Linked DNA regions of Homo sapiens. The protein of the gene in region 2 purifies or fractionates together with the protein of the main gene of each other region. This does not show direct contact. Each region holds a gene or a part of one and is shown on either strand. Other genes may lie near its edges.

What was found. The genes of interacting proteins can lie anywhere in the genome.
Region 1: the proteins of SEC22C (region 2) and ABAT purify together in Homo sapiens (affinity purification with mass spectrometry; 3 studies listed by BioGRID and IntAct, with this or other methods). This does not show direct contact.

What each region holds. Positions count from the first base shown.
Region 1 is NC_000016.10:8,761,366-8,769,397, forward strand, and holds part of ABAT (4-aminobutyrate aminotransferase, mitochondrial isoform 1 precursor), read left to right. Parts: intron 1-2,703; coding exon 2,704-2,784; intron 2,785-3,372; coding exon 3,373-3,465; intron 3,466-4,842; coding exon 4,843-4,905; intron 4,906-6,827; coding exon 6,828-6,891; intron 6,892-7,459; coding exon 7,460-7,608; intron 7,609-8,032. UniProt on the Homo sapiens protein: Catalyzes the conversion of gamma-aminobutyrate and L-beta-aminoisobutyrate to succinate semialdehyde and methylmalonate semialdehyde, respectively. Can also convert delta-aminovalerate and beta-alanine.
Region 2 is NC_000003.12:42,571,527-42,579,558, reverse strand, and holds part of SEC22C (vesicle-trafficking protein SEC22c), read left to right. Parts: intron 1-8,032. UniProt on the Homo sapiens protein: May be involved in vesicle transport between the ER and the Golgi complex.

The sequences.
Region 1 (8,032 bases), on a different chromosome or scaffold from region 2:
GTACTTACTGCCTTCCGGCTGTGTCCCAGTCTCCTCCACCTCAAATGCTAAGCCCTTGGAGGGCTGCCTCCCACTTTCTTCTTTAGCCTTATTACTTGACATTTGCTCATTCATTGGTTATTGACTGAATGCTTCCAATGTGCCAAGCACTCTTTTTGGTGCTGGGATTTGATGGTGAATCCACGTTCTCCGTCCCAGTCTGGGTTGGGTTGTTCTGCAGAGGAACTGGGTTTGAGGCCTGATGAAAAGAGCACCCTGACGCAGTCTTAGAGAGGTGGCAGCTGACCTCCACGGGCTAAAAGGTTTCCAGCAGGACATGCCCAGGGCAGTAGGCCGGGGCACCACTGGCTGACATCTTGGGTCTTCCGCATTTTTGGCTGGAGATGCACTCAGGTGGTGGCAATGGTATTCTGCTTGTACAGGGCAGGTTCCTGCCAGGTCACCAAAGTCCCAAGAAGGGGTTTATCAACCTTTTTGCACCCAAACCAAACCACCCTGAAACTCCACCATAATTACTTCATGTGACTTCCTAAAAATGAAACCATGTCCCTTAGATCTAATATCTGGATTCCAATTATGATTTCTTTTTTCTTCTTCTTTCTTCCTTCTTCTTCCTTCTCCTTCTCCTTCTCCTTCTTCTCCTTCTTCTTCTTTCTTCTTTCTCTCTCTGTCACCCAGGCTAGAGTGGAGTGGCTGGATCATAGTTCATTGCAGCCTCGAACTCCTGGACTCAAAAGATCCTCCCACCTCAGCCTCCTAAGTGACTGGGATTATAGGCGTGAGCCACTGTGCCCGACCTCCAGTTACTATTTCTTATGTCACCAGGCCCATCTCATTACATTGCCAACAAGTTATACAATAATCATGGACATTGCATGTGCACAGTCACATTGCAATGAATGCACATAGCACAGCAGGCCTGACCAAGTAAGACACCTGCCATCCTATGACCTCTGGGTCTTTCCCTCTGCATAACTCTTCCTTTGAGACTGAACTCCTGCATCCTCTGTATGCCATATCATCTCACTGGCTTCTTACAAGCACCTAGTGAAGAGTCTCCAGTTTGGCAGATGAGAAACCCAAAGCTCAGAGAGGTTAAGTGAGTTGCCCAAGGTTGCACAGCCACTTAAGCCAAAGCCAATTATCTTCATGCTGTACCCTAAGCCTGTTGAGCTGACTGCAAGGGTTTAGAAAGCTATCCTCATTTGATCCTGATACCCAATGTCCCAGATATCTTCTGTTCTTAATGTCACGCTTTCTCGAGCAAGAACATCACCCCCACGTCGTTCCTAGACCCAGACGGCTGTCAAGCTGCCAGCCAGCCCTACCCTTCTGGGAGCCATTTCCCTGCTGCTAGTGAGGGCCAGCTTGCTTCCACCCTATTCTCATGATGTGATTTCTTAGGAGCCCCACTAACAGGTCAGAGCCAGAAGGAAATGTTCCTTAAAGTCCCCTCCAAGGTTGGGCACAGTGGCTCACACTTGTAATCCCAGCACTTTGGGAGGCTGAGGCAGGCAGATCACTTGAGTCCAAGAGTTCAAGACCAGCCTGGGCAACATGGCGAAACCCTGTCTCTATAAAAAAATACAAAAAATTAGCTGGGTGCGGTGGCATGTGCCTGTAGTCCCAGCTACTTGGAAGGCTGAGGTGGGAGGATCACTTGAGTCTCGGAGGTTGAGGCTGCAGTAAGCTGATATCACGCTACTGCACTCCAACCTGAGAGAGCAAGACCCTGTAACAAAAAAAAAAAAAAAAAAGCCCTTCCAGGCAAGCCAAGGTCTCTGGGTTGTGCCAAGCATGAGCATTTTCGGGCAGAGGCTACCTGGAGTATCTGACAGAGAGTGGCATCTAAAGTCAGTAAACCTAGATCCGAGTTGTGGTTCTGCCCCTTCTTGGCTGTGTGACTTGGGGCAAGTTGCTTGACCTCTCTGGTCCTCAGTTCCCCCAACTCTACAATGAGGACAATTAACTTCCCTCACTACTTATCCTAGACCCAACTGAGTGATCGTGAAGCAGAAAAAGCAAGAGGTAGGAATCTGCCAGTTTCTAGCAGCACAAGTCAAGTCCTAAAGCTACTGGGAGAATCATCTCTGGGAACCCCTCTGCCCTTAGGGTGTCCTATACAGTGATGCTGGTTTTTGGATTTGCACTGAGTGCATTACACTGATTTTGCCCAAGACACTCTTTCTCTACTCCAAAAGTCCCTTTTTGTATTTTTAGCAGAGAAAAGGTTTCACCATGTTGGCCAGGCTGGTCTCGAACTCCTGGCCTCAAGCAATCCATCCGCCTCGGCCTCCCAAAATGCAGGGATTACAGGCGTGAGGCACTGCACTCTGCCTGTTTTTTAGCCATTCTGATGGTTAAATATATAAAGAAAGAGACTCACGGGAAGTTGCAAAAACCAGTACAAAGAGCCCCATGTACGCTTCGCTCAGTTTTCCCCAGCGGCAGTAGCATCCTATATAACGCCAATGCAATATGGCAACCAGGACACTGACCCTTTTTTAAAACATCCACAGCAATCCTAGTGGATTTCTCTAAAGGTTTAAGGAAACCGGCCATGCCCCACGCTGACAGAACGTCATCATCCTGCAACCCCATTTGGAGGCTATTTGAACACAGGGGCTATGAAAAGCACCATTTGTGGGCAGGGAGCTGGGTCAGGCCCCCAGAAGTCACCATTTGTCTCTTGCCCTTTTGCAGAGCATGTTTGTCAACAGACCCGCCCTCGGAATCCTGCCTCCGGAGAACTTTGTGGAGAAGCTCCGGCAGTCCTTGCTCTCGGTGAGTTCTGGAGAAGCAATCCCATTGTCTTCAGACGTGGTACTGGCAGGGGAAGGGAAAAGTGGAGACGCCAACAATGAAGAATAAGGTGTTGCTACAGAAATCTTTCTCTCTGAGCTTATTCTTCCATGCAGAGTATTTTAAATTTTTCTTTTAAAGGACAGAAGGGATTCTTTGTGTGCAGGACAAAAGGAGCTGGGGAAATGAATATGTGTCGCATGATAGGAGCCTTGCATATGTCATTCAATCCTGCCCCCACTTCTCGGTTTTAGTTACTACAAACGATTAAAGCCATTGGGAGCCTCAACGTCCCGCCTGGAACGTGTAGGTGTCTTAGACAGTGGCAGGTGCATCAGGAGTGGGCTTTTGCCCCCCTTCTTTCCTCTCTGCCAGCCTCAGGGCCTCCCTGGGCTTCTCCGCCACCCCTGGAAAAGCCTGAGCCCACCCTCCCAGTCCGACACCTTCCAGGACAGCCCTGGTTCTGTCTGTCCCCGGTACGGCCCCTGCGAAGATTCAGCTCCAGCCAGGGGAAGCGGGAGGACAGGAGTCATGATGAGCCTGGGCTCACGGCTATTTCCCTCCCCACAGGTGGCTCCCAAAGGGATGTCCCAGCTCATCACCATGGCCTGCGGCTCCTGCTCCAATGAAAACGCCTTAAAGACCATCTTCATGTGGTACCGGGTGAGGTTTGGGGCACACACACACACACACACACAGGCTCCCCAGCACCCAGCCACACGCTCACCCCTTGTCTGACTGTTCATTCCAATGGGCTGGAGTATTAGACATCAGTACCAGGGTTAAAATACAGGGAGGGCCACTGCTGGATGGTACTTTGAGACGGCACAGTGGGGTATGGTGCAGAGGGCTGAGGCTTTGGCATCAAAACTATGCAATGGGGGCTGGGCGCAGTCGTTCACACCTGTAATCCCAACACTCTGAGAGGCAAAGGCGGGCAGATCACTTGAGCCCAGGAGCTCGAGACCAGCCTGGGCAACATGACGAAACCCCATCTCTACTAAAAAAAAATTCAAAAATTGGCCAGGCATGGTGACGCATGCCTGTAGTCCCAACTATTCTGGAGGCTGAGGTGGAAGGATTGCTTGAGCCTGGGAGGTCAAGGCTGCAGTGAGCCATGGTTGTGCCACTGCATTTCAGCCTGGGTGACAGAGTAAGACCCTGTCTCAAAAAAAAAAAAAGAAGAAGAAAATGCTCCTTAAATTCCCCTCCAAGGTTGGGCACAGTGGCTCACACTTGTAATCCCAGCACTTCGGGAGGCTGAGGCAGGCAGATCACTTGAGTCCAAGAGTTCAAGACCAGCCTGGGCAACATGGTGAAACCCCGTCTCTATAAAATATACAAAAAATTAGCTGGGTGCGGTGGTGCCTGCCTGTTGTCCCAGCTACTTGGAAGGCTGAGGTGGGAGGATCACTTGAGCCTGGGAGGTCGAGGCTGCAGTTAGCTGATATCATGCTACTGCACTCCAACCTGAGAGACACAGCAAGAGCAAGGAGCAAGACCCTGTAAAAAAACAAAAACAGAAACGAAAACAAAAACAAAAAAAACCCTTCCAGGCAAGCCAAGGTCTCTGGGTTGTGCCTCTAGGTTATTTTATTTAAATATTTAAATTTAAATTTATTTAAATATTCTAAATTGCAGAGACAGAGTCCCACTTTGTTGCCCAGCATGGTCTCAAACTCTTGGCCTCAAGCAATCCTCCTGTCTTAGCCACCCAAAGTACTAGGATTACAGATTTGAGCCCGCACATCTGGCCTCCATTCTTCCTGGCAAAACATGCAACGCTCTCAGCAGATCTTAATCCAACAGATCTTAATCGTTGCTGATGGTGCTTAATGCATTATGTGTGTTAGTTTCTTTTGTTGCGAGCACAGTTGGTAGCCTCACGTTTCAGTACAGACCTGCAACAATTAATACATGAGATCCACTCCTGAGAAAGCACTTTCTACTTGTCTGGACTGAATATCGGTTTGGTTGGAAAGATGAAGCCCCGACTACCCCAGAGCATCTCTGAGATTTTGTTCTGTTCTATTGTTTCAGAGCAAGGAAAGAGGGCAGAGGGGCTTCTCCCAGGAGGAGCTGGAGACGTGCATGATTAACCAGGTGAGTGCAGCTGGGCTTGCACCACGTACATCTGGGGAAGCTGCACAGCCTCTCCCGGGCTGTTGCTGGCTGGCTGGCACTGTCCTCAATTAGGAAGGGCCAGGCCAGGCGCGGTGGCTCATGCCTGTAATCCCAGCACTTTGGGAGGCCAAGGCAGGCGGATCACCCAAGGTCAGGAGTTCAAGACCAGCCTGGCTAATATGGTGAAACCCCATCTCTACTAAAAAGACAAAAATTACCCGGGCATAGTGGCACATGCATGTAATCCCAGCTACTTGGGAGGCTGAGGCAGGAGAATCATTTGAACCCAGGAGGTGGAGGTTGCAGTGAGCCGAGATCACACCACTACACTCCAGCCTGGGTGACAGAGTGAGACTCCTCTCAAAACAAACAAAAAAACAAAAACAAAAACAAAAGGCCGGCTGCTGTGGTTCACGCCTGTAATCCCAGCACTTTGGGAGGCCGAGGCGGGTGGATCTCCCGAGGTCAGGAGTTCCAGACCAGCCTGGCCAATATGGCGAAACCCTGTCTCTACTAAAAATACAAAAATTAGCCAGATGTGGTGGCGGGTACCTGTAATTCCAGCTACTCGGGAGGCTGAGGCAGGAGAATCGCTTGAACCCGACGGGCGCGGAGGTTGCAGTAGGCCGAGATCTCACCACTGCACTCCAGCCTGGCGACAGAGCAAGACTCCATCTCAAAAACAAAACAAAACAAAAAAAGTACAAGAGGGTTTCTGGAATCTGTGGGAGGAGTTCTTAGGGTTTTTCCCAGAGGTCTCAGGGAATTGGTGCTCAACCAGCCTGAGACAATGCCAACCTCCTTGAGACTTGGGGGCCCCCACAGTTCCCTCTGAGGCACCTCCAGCAGTTCTGCCTGAATCAGCTGGAAACATGTTTGGATTCCCTTGCTGGGTGAAGAGTCAGAAAACAATGCAAGGAGTTGCAGCTGTGCCATTTGCTTGGGGCTGGAAAGGGACAGGGCGTCCATGCACCCCTCCTGAACCCAAGGCGCAGCTGCCATGGGAGAGTGCCCGGAGAGGGGCTCCCCTCACCCGCTTTCTAGCACCACAGACCCCTTCCAAAGGCCTGGGGGTTTTCCTGCAAGGTGCCCAGCTCGGCCCCTTGCCTTGGTCACCCTGGGATGCAGGCGTGCACCCATCAGCACCTGACCCGCCTGACACCTGAGGAGGCCTGAGTAGTAGGGAGCCAGGGGATGGGGAGGAAGTTGAAGAGCCTGTAGAAAAGGGGCTGAAAACCCAGGAGTCCCCAGCAGCTGGAGGTAGGCGGGCAGTGGGTACTGCTTGGCCACTTACAGCTGCCACAGGAGGAAAATGGGTCCAAACAGTGCAGCACTGGTGAGAAGCCAGAAGTTCAGGTCTCTATGTGAAATTTCTTAGTTTTAAATTTTGCAACTTGTTTTGAGACAGAGTCTCGCTCTTGTTGACCAGGCTGGGGTGCAGTGGCGCGAACTCGGCTCACTGCAACCTCTGTCTCCCGGGTTCAAGCGATTCTCCTGTCTCAGCCTCCCAAGTAGCTAGGATTACAGGCCCCCACCACCATGCCTGTCTAATTTTTGTATTTTTAGTAGAGACGGGGTTTCACCATGTTGGCCAGGCTGATCCCAAACTCCTGACCTCCGATGATCCGCCTGCCTCAGCCTTCCAAAGTGCTGGGATTACAGGTGTGAGCCACCACACCCAGCCTAAAATTTGTGACTTAAAAAAAAAAAAATGTAAGTATGTATGCAAATAAAACGTGTGTCTTGGATATAGACCCCATTGGTCCCATGGGTAACTTTTGCCTGAGAAGGATTCCTGGTTCTTCTGATAGATTTCTGTGTCCCTCTGGACTTGCAGGGGCAACAATACAGTTCCCCCATCCTTACAACTATGACTAATGACTGATATTTCTTGGTTTTAGGCCCCTGGCTGCCCCGACTACAGCATCCTCTCCTTCATGGGCGCGTTCCATGGGAGGACCATGGGTAAGGAGGGACCATTGCGCTCCCAAGGTGGCGTTTAGAATAGTAATAATAACGGCAACAATAGCGGCGGCTGACATTAGCAGTTTACACATATTGTCCCACTGATTGCACACAATCCCACTGCAGAGTGGGGATTATTATTCCTGCTTTGCAGATGGGGGAATCAGTGTTCAGGAAGAGGAAGAATTTCCAAGGCTATTCAGTGACAGAGCCGGGACTGGAACTCTTGACTCTGTCTTCAAAGCCTGCGCTGCATCTGTGATTAATCGCAATGCAAACACATACCCACGCACGCATGCCAATTAAGGGTTCGAGAGTCCCCCTTCAGCTTCCGGATGAGAACTGGGGTTCAGTATCAAAACATCTCATGTACTCCCCAAGTATATACACCTCCTATGCACCCAGAAAAATTAAAAATTAAACGATAAAAAGAACTGGGGTTTCACAGGCAACAGGCCTCCCTGCCCACTGACAGCCTTGCGCTGAAATGTCTATCATCTCCTTTACAAAGACGGTACTGCCTGCTTCCCCAAGCCAAGCGTCTGCTTTTCTGTTTTGCTGAACTCAGGTTGCTTAGCGACCACGCACTCTAAAGCCATTCACAAGATCGACATCCCTTCCTTTGACTGGCCCATCGCACCGTTCCCACGGCTGAAATACCCTCTGGAAGAGTTTGTGAAAGAGAACCAACAGGAGGAGGCCCGCTGTCTGGAAGAGGTAATGCTCATACCCTGCGGATCCTCCCCAACCACCAGTCCTGTTGCTCTTGCCGCCCCAAGACTTGGGGAGAAGAGAAACAGATGAAGGGTTTATCTGGGGATCTGTGCAGTGCTCCCCCAGAGGGAAGCAGGGACACAGAGGCCTTGCGTCCCAAATGTTCTATGTTGGGAGAGTTCGTGAGACACACTGTTTCTGTCACAGCATCCATCACCCAACTCTGATACCAATTTCTGTATCACTTAAGTTTCTTGGAAGACAAGAGTCAATGACTCTAAAATAAGAGAAAACAGATCAGTTGAAAGAATATGGGGCTGGGCACGGTGGCTCCGCCTGTAATCCCAGCACTTTGGGAGGCTGAGACGGGAGGATCACCTGAGGCCAGGAGTTCGAGACCAGCCTGGCCAACATGGTGAAACCCCAT
Region 2 (8,032 bases):
TGCAGTCGCAGCTCACGCAGCCTTGACCTCCTGAGCTCAAGTGATCCTCCCACTTCAGACTCCCAAGTAGCTGGGACCACAGGTGTGTGCCACCATGCCTGGCTTTTTTTTTTTTTTTTTGTAGAGATGGGGTGTCATTGTGTTGCCCAGGCTGGTCTCAAATTCTTGGACTCAAGCAGTCCTCCCGCCTCAGCCTCCCAAAATGCTGGGATGACAGGTATGAGCCACCATGCTCAGCCTGCTTTCCTAGTTTTTTGTTTTGTTTTGTTTTGTTTTGTTTTGAGATGGAGTTTTGCTCTTGTTGCCCAGGCTGGAGTGTGATGGCACAATCTCAGCTGACTGCAACCTCTGCCTCCTGGGTTCAAGTGACTCTCCTGCCTCAGCCTTCTGAATAGCTGGGATTACAGGCATGTACCACCATACCTAGCTAATTTTGTATTTTTAGTAGAGACGGGGTTTCTCCATGTTGGTCAGGCTGTTCTCGAACTCCCGACCTCAGGTGATCCACCTGCCTCTGCCTCCCAAAGTGCTGGGATTACAGGCATGAGCCACTGCACCCAGCCGCTTTCCTGTTTTAAGTTGAATACTAGTTGTCTTTGAGCAGCTTTATTTCAAAGAGTCCTGAGATTATAGTACCTTCCAGTTTAGAAATGTGATGTAGTAAAGGAGCTATTCACTATAAAGTGTGCCCTTCAGTGTTCATGCATAAAACATCAAAATTACAGTTAATTAGCAGATAAGATATTGGTGGGGATATTTAAAAATTATATTTAAACAAAAAAGTATTAGCATAATTTAAGTAACCAGTACATGAGGATCTTAAGTTAATACTTTTTTCCAGCTTTTATTTTAAGATAATTATAGTTGCAGGAATTTGCAAATATAGTACAGAGAAGTCTCATGTACCCTTCACCTAGTTTTCCCCATTGATTACATATTATATAATTCTAGTAAACAGCAACTCCAGGAAATTGATGTTGGTATAAAGTGTGTGTGTGTGTGTGTGTGTGTGTGTGTGTAGTACTGTCACTTTATCGTGTGTAGATTCCTGTAATCATCACCGCAATCAAGATACAGAATTATTCCATCACCAGATGCCTTTGGCTGTTCATTCATAGTCACACCCATTCCCTTCCTCTCTACCATCCCTAACCTCTGACAACTGTTTATCAGCCCTCCATTTCTATAATTTTGTCATTTCAAGAATGTTACGTAAAAGGATGCATATTGTATATAACCTTTTGATACGGGCTTTTTATAACCAAGCATAATGCACTTGAGATCCATTCAAGTTGTTCTGTGTACCAGGACCATAGTTTATTCTTCTTCTTTGCTGAGTAGTATTCCATGGAATGAATATACTGCGGTTTGTTTAACCATTCACTATTTGTAGGACATTTTGGTTGTTTTCAGGTTTGGTTGTTATAAATAAAGCTGCAATGAGCAATTGTACAGAGGTTTTCGTGTAGACACAAATTTTTATTTCTCTGGGATAAATGTCAGGAGTGTGATTGGTAGATTGTACAATAATTGCATGTTTAGTTTTAAAAGAAACTGCCAAACTGTGTTTTGTTTTTGTTTTTTTTTTTGAGATGAAATTTCATTCTGTTGTCCAGGCTGGAGTGCAATGGTGCAGTCTTGGCGCACTGCAACCTCCGCCTCCCAGGTTCAAGTGATTCTCCTGCCTCAGCCTCCCAAGTAGCTGGGATTATAGGTGCCCACCACCATGCCTAGCTAATTTTTGCATTTTTAGTAGAGATGGGGTTTCACCGTGTTGGCCAGGCTGGTCTCGAACCCTTAACCTCAGGTGATCCACTCACCTCAGCCTGCCAAAGTGCTGGGATTACAGGCATGAGCCACTGCGCCTGGCCCAGACTTTTCTAGAGTATACCATTTTACAGTCCAGTAATGCATGAGAGATCCAGTTTGTCTCCATGCTTGCCAGTGTTTGATACTGTCACTATTTATCATTTTAGCTGTTCTGATGGGTAGGTAGTATTATCTCATTGGGGTCTCAAGTTGCATTTTCATAATAGCTCAATATCTTTTCATGCTCTGATTTGCCATCCATATATCCTCTTTGTGAAATGTCTGTATGTGTGTTTTTCCCATTTTAAAATTGGATTGTTTGTGTTTTTTCACTGTTGAATTTCAAGAGTTCTTTATACATTCTAGATTTGAGTTGCTTATCAGATATGTGGTTTACAGATATTTTCTCCCAATTTCTAGCTTGTCTTTTCATCCTCTTCACATGGGCTTTCCTAGAGAAGCAAAATTGAAAAGTGTTCAATTTTGTTGCAGTCCAGTTTTCCGAATTATCTTATGGATTATGCTTTTGGTGTCATATCTAAGAGCTCCTCACCAAGTCATAGGTCCTGAAGATTTCCTCCTATGTTTTCTTCCAGTTTTATAGTTTTATTTTTCATATTTATATCTATGATAAATTTTTAGTTAATTTTTATGTAAGATGTGAGGTTTAGGTCAAGATTCTTTCTTTTTACTCCCGGCACTATTTATAGAAAAGACTACCCTTCCTCCCTTAAATTACTTTTGCACTTTGTAAAAAATCAGTTAGATATACTTATGTAAGTATATTTTTGGGTTCTGTATTCTGTTTCATTGATCTATGTCTATTCCTCCAACAATACCACACAATCTTGATTACTATAGCTATATAATAAGTCTTGAAGTAGGATAGCATGGTTTTTCCTATTTTATTCTTTTTTCAGAATTGCTTTAGCTATTTTAGTTTCTTTGCCTTTTCATACGCATTTTAGAATAATCTTATCTATAGCCACAAACTCGCTTGCTTATTTTTTTTTTTCAGTAGTTGTATTAAACCTGTATATCAGTTTGGGGGAGAATTGACATCTTTGCTTTGTTGACTCTTCCAATCCATAAAACATGATATATCTCCCCATTTATTTAGCACTTTGATTTCAGGAATATTTTGTAGTTTTCAGCATACAAGTTCTGTATATGTTTTGTTAGATTTATATCTAAGTATTTTATTTAAAAAATTATAGCTTTATTGATATTATTTTTTAGAGTGATTATAAATGGTATTTAAATTTTGGTTTCTATATGTTCATTGTTCGTATATAGAAATGTAATTTTTTTTAGATGAAGTATCACTCTGTCCAAAGGACCAACTTTTTGTTTCATTGATTTTTCTCTGTTTTTAAAATTTTCCATTTCATTGATTTCTATCCTATTATTTCCTTCCATGTTTGTGATTTAAGTTTATTTTGCTCTTCTTCTAATTTCTTGACTTGTGAGCTTAAATTACTGTTTTGAGACTTTTCTTCTTTTGGAATGTAAGCATTTAGTGCTATGGATTTCCCTCTCGGTACTGTTTTAGCTGTGTGACACAAATTTTGATATATTTTCATTTTCATCTAGTTCAATGTATTTTTTTAATTTCCTTTATATTTCCTTTTTAACTTACGGATTGTTTTAAAGTGTGTGTTTAATTTTCAAGTGTTTGGAGGTTTTCTTTACCTTTCTGTTATTAATTTATAATTTGATTACACTGTGGTCATATAACACACTTTGTATAAATTATTTTAAATTTATTGAGTTTTGTCTTATAGTCCAGGATATGGTCTATCTTGGTAGACATTCTGTGGTTTCTTGACTTAAACTCCTGTCCTCAGCAATCCTCCCACCTCGGCCTCCCAGAGGGCTGAGATTACAGGTATGAGCCATTGTGTCCAGCCTATTCTGTGGGGTCTTCAAAGGAATTCTTCTGTTGTTGGATGCAATATTATAAATCATGATTATATCCTTTAGTTGATAGTGTTTTCTAGTTCTTTTTGTAAATCTTTGCTGATTTCTGTTTACTTGTCTTATCAATTTTTGAGGTGCAGTTGATTGAAGTCTCCAGCTATAACTATGGATTTGTCTGTTCCTCCTTTCACTTTATGAGTTTTTGCTTCACTTATTTACATCTTTGAAGTTTGGTGCAAACACATTCAGGATTATTATGCCTTCTTAGTGGACTTATTCTTTTATCATTATGTAATATCCTTCTTTGTTCCTGGACATTTTCTTCACTCTGAAGTCTATCTGATGATAATATAACTCTTGCTTCTTTTGATTAATGTTTGCATGCTATATTTTTTCCATCCATTTACTTTCAACCTACCTATATTGTTATACTGGAAGTGAATTTCATGTAGATAGTATATAATTGGGTCATGTCTTTTATCTACTGTCAGTCTCTGTTTTGGCAATTGTCATATTTAGACCATTTACATTTAATGTAATCATTGATATATATTAGGGAATAAGTCTGCCCTTTTTTGTTTTGTGTTTGTTCTGTTTGTTGTTGCCATTGTTGTTATTTCTCTGTTTTCTTTTCCTTGACTTCTTGTGGGTAATTTGAACATTTTAAAATAATTACATTTTAGGCCAGGCCTAGTGGCTCATGCCTGTAATCCCAGTACTTTGGGAAGCTGAGATGGGAGGATTGCTTGAGACCAGGAATTCAAGACCAGCTGTGGCAACATAGCAAGATCCTGTCTGTACAAAATATATCTTTTAAAAAATTAGCTGGGTATAACGGTACATGTCTGTAGTCCCAGCTACTTGGGAGGCTGAGGCAGAAGGATCACTTGAGTCTTGAGGCTGAGGCAGAAGGATGACTTGAGGTTGAGGCAGCAGTGAGCCATGATTGTGTCACTGCGTTCCAGACTGGGTGACAGAGTGAGACCCTGTCTCAAAAAATAATAATTTCATTTTATAATCTATAGTGTTTTTTAGTATATCTCTTTGTATAGTTTTTAGTGGGGTGTATATGTGTTTGTGTGTGAGTATGTGTATGACTTGTTGTGGTCTCCTGATGTGTTTTACTATTTCAAATGAAATGTAGAAACTTTACCTCCTTTTATGTCTTTGAACCCTCCCATTTATAATTGTCTTAAATAGTTCCTTTACGTATGTTGAGAACCACATGAGACATAATTATTGCTTCATTCACCGAACATAATTTAGAAAACTCATGAGAGAATAATCTGTCATATTTTTAAAAGTTTTTACCCTTTCTGTTGTTCTTTCTTTCTTCCTGATATTCCAGGATTTCTTCTTTTATCATTTCCTTTCTGTTTAGAGAACTTCTTGACAAATTCCTTTAATGTTCCTTCATCTAAGTATGCTTTAATTTTTCTTTTATTCCTTTTTTTTTTTTTTTTTTTGAGACAGGGTCTTGCTATGTTGCCTAGGCTGGACTTGAACTCCTGGGGCTCAAGCAGTATAGCTGGGACTACAGACACATGCCACTGCACCTGGCTGCTTGAAGGATATTTTTGCTGAATACAGGATTCTGGGTTGGCAGTTCTTTTCTTTTAGTATTTGAAAAATGTGCTACTTCCTTTTGGCCTCCATGTTTTCTATGAGAAATTTGCTGTCATTTGAATTGTTTTCCCCTTATAGGTAAGGTTATTATTTTTCTCTTGCTGCTTTCAAGATTTTTTCTTTGTCTTTAGTTTTCATAAGTTGGGCTTCTGTCTGTGTGCTGGCATGGGTTTCTGGGTTTATCCTTTCTGGGATTTGTTCAGTTTCTTTGAATCTCTGGGCTTATGTCTTTTGCACAGTTTGGGAAATATTCAGAAATTATTTCTTTGAATACTTTTTCAGCCCTGTCTTCTTTCTTTTGTCCTCCAGGACTCAAGTAACATGAATAGTTGGTCATTTTTTAGAGTCTCACAGGTCTCCAAGTCTCTGTGAAATATTTTTCAATCTAGTTCCTCTCATATTGTTCAGATTGAGTAATTTCTATGTTCTGTCTTAATGTTTACTCATTCATTCTTCTCCTCCCCCCCATATTTCTATTGAGTCCATCCATTGCATTTTTTACTTTAGTTAATTAATTACTTTATTTATTTTCATACAGATGGGGGTCTCATTATGTTGCCCAGGCTGGTCTCAAACTCCTGGTCTCAGGTGATCCTCTTGCCTTGGCCTCCCAAAGCATTAGGATTATAGATGTAAGCCACTGCACCTGGCCTCAGTTTTGTTTTTTGTTTTTTTGTTTTTGACGGAGTCTCGCTCTGTAGCCCAGGATGGAGTGCAGTGGTGTGATCTTGGCTCACTGCCATCTCAGCCTCCCGGATTCAAGCGATTCTCCTGCCTCAGCCTCCCAAGTATCTGAGACTACAGGTGTGTGCCACCATGCCCGGCTAATTTTTGTATTTTTAATAGAGACGAGGTTTTACTGTGTTGGCCAGGCTGTCTCGAACTCCTGACCTCAAGTGACCCACCTGCCTTGGCCTACCAAAGTGCCAGGATTACAGGCATGAGCCATCGTGCCTGGCCTCCTCGGTTTATTTTTAATTCTAGAATCTCCATTTAGTTTTTATATCTTCTGTTTCTTTACTGAGAGTTTTTATTTTTCATTTTTTAAAAGTGGCTGGGTGTGGTGGCTCACCCCTATAATCCCGCCACTTTGAGAGGCCGAGGTGGGAGGATCACATGAGCCTGAGAGTTCAAGATGAGCCTGAGCAACATAGCGAGACCCTGTGTCTACAGAAAAAAAAAGTAGTGGTGTGTGCCTGTATTCCCAGCTATTCAGAATGCTAAGGTGGAAGGATTGCTTGAGCCCTGGAGATCGAGGCTGCAGTGAGCCATGATTGCACTGCTGTATTCTAGCCTGGGAAACAGTTTATAATTGACCATTGAAGCATTTTTATGGTGGCTGTTTTAAACTCTTTGTTAGATAATTCTAATATCTCTGTCATCTTGATGTTGCCATCAATTAATGTCTCTTCTCATTGAAGCTGAGGTTTTTCTGGTTCTTAGTATAGCCAGTGATTTTCTATTGAAACTTACATTTTGGATGTTTTGAGATCTGAATCTTACTAAAATCTTCTGTTTTAGCTGGCCCTTCTGAACACCACTCCAGCAGGGGAAGCAAGGGACTGTCTTATTACTGCCCAATGGAAGTAGAAGTCCAGGTTCCCTACGTGGCCTCTGTTAACACCCTGGGGGAAAGGGGCTGCTCATCATTGCCTGGGAGAGATAGGAATTCTGTCTACCCAGTGACACAGTGGGAGAGAATGGCTCATTACTGCCCTCTAGCCCCCTACTTGGCCTTCTCTGATGCTACCCCGGCAGGATGGGAGGTGGAGAATGGGGCACTTCATTACTGTAGGGCAGTGGTGGAAGTCTAGGCTCTTCACTTGGCCTTCGTTGGCAGGTGTGTGGTAGCTACAGTTTTTTTGTGATGTTTGGCTGGAGTAGAGCAGTTTTTTACCTGCAAGTTTTTTGTTTTGCTATGCATTACCTTTTCTAGTTTTTTTGACTGGAGAGAACAAAGTTTTTTTGGCTTTTTTTTTTTTTTTGGTCTGTACCCATTGGCATTTCTTGCTAGCTTCTCCACCACTCAGTCTGTGATATGTGAGACAAACAAACAAACAAATAAGAAAAAACAAACTCAGCAGACTCACAGCTGTGTCATTCCTCAGACCCCAAGGTCCCTAGCCAGTCTTCTTCCTTCTCCACCTTTCAGAATTTTTATTTTTATTTTTGAGACAGGGTCTCACTCTGTCACCTAGGTTGGAGTGCAGTGACACAATCTCAGCTCACTGTAACCTCTCCCTCCCGGATTCAAGCGATTCTCGTGCCTCAGCCTCCTGAGTAGCTGGGATTACAGGTGTGTGCCACCACGCCCGGCTAATTTTTGTATTTTTAGTAGAGACGGGGTTTCGCCATGTTGGCCAGGCTGGTCAGAATTTTTAAATGTTTATTTTATATATAATGTCCAGGGTATTTCAAGGGAGAAGTAGGGAAAAGTACTTCTACTTCATCTTTCCAGAAGCAGAAGTTCATTCTGTTTTGAGCAGTGGTCAGATCTCTTATTTGAGTACAGGCTGTCTCATAATAGCTCATAACCTGAATTCACAAATATCAAATCCCTGTAAAGATAAGCCCCTTCCTTTTTGTATTATTATTTTTCCATCTTTTAGAATACAAAGTATATTTTTACAAAGGAAAATAATGTCAAGGATGTTGTCTTCATTCTTATACTCTTCCG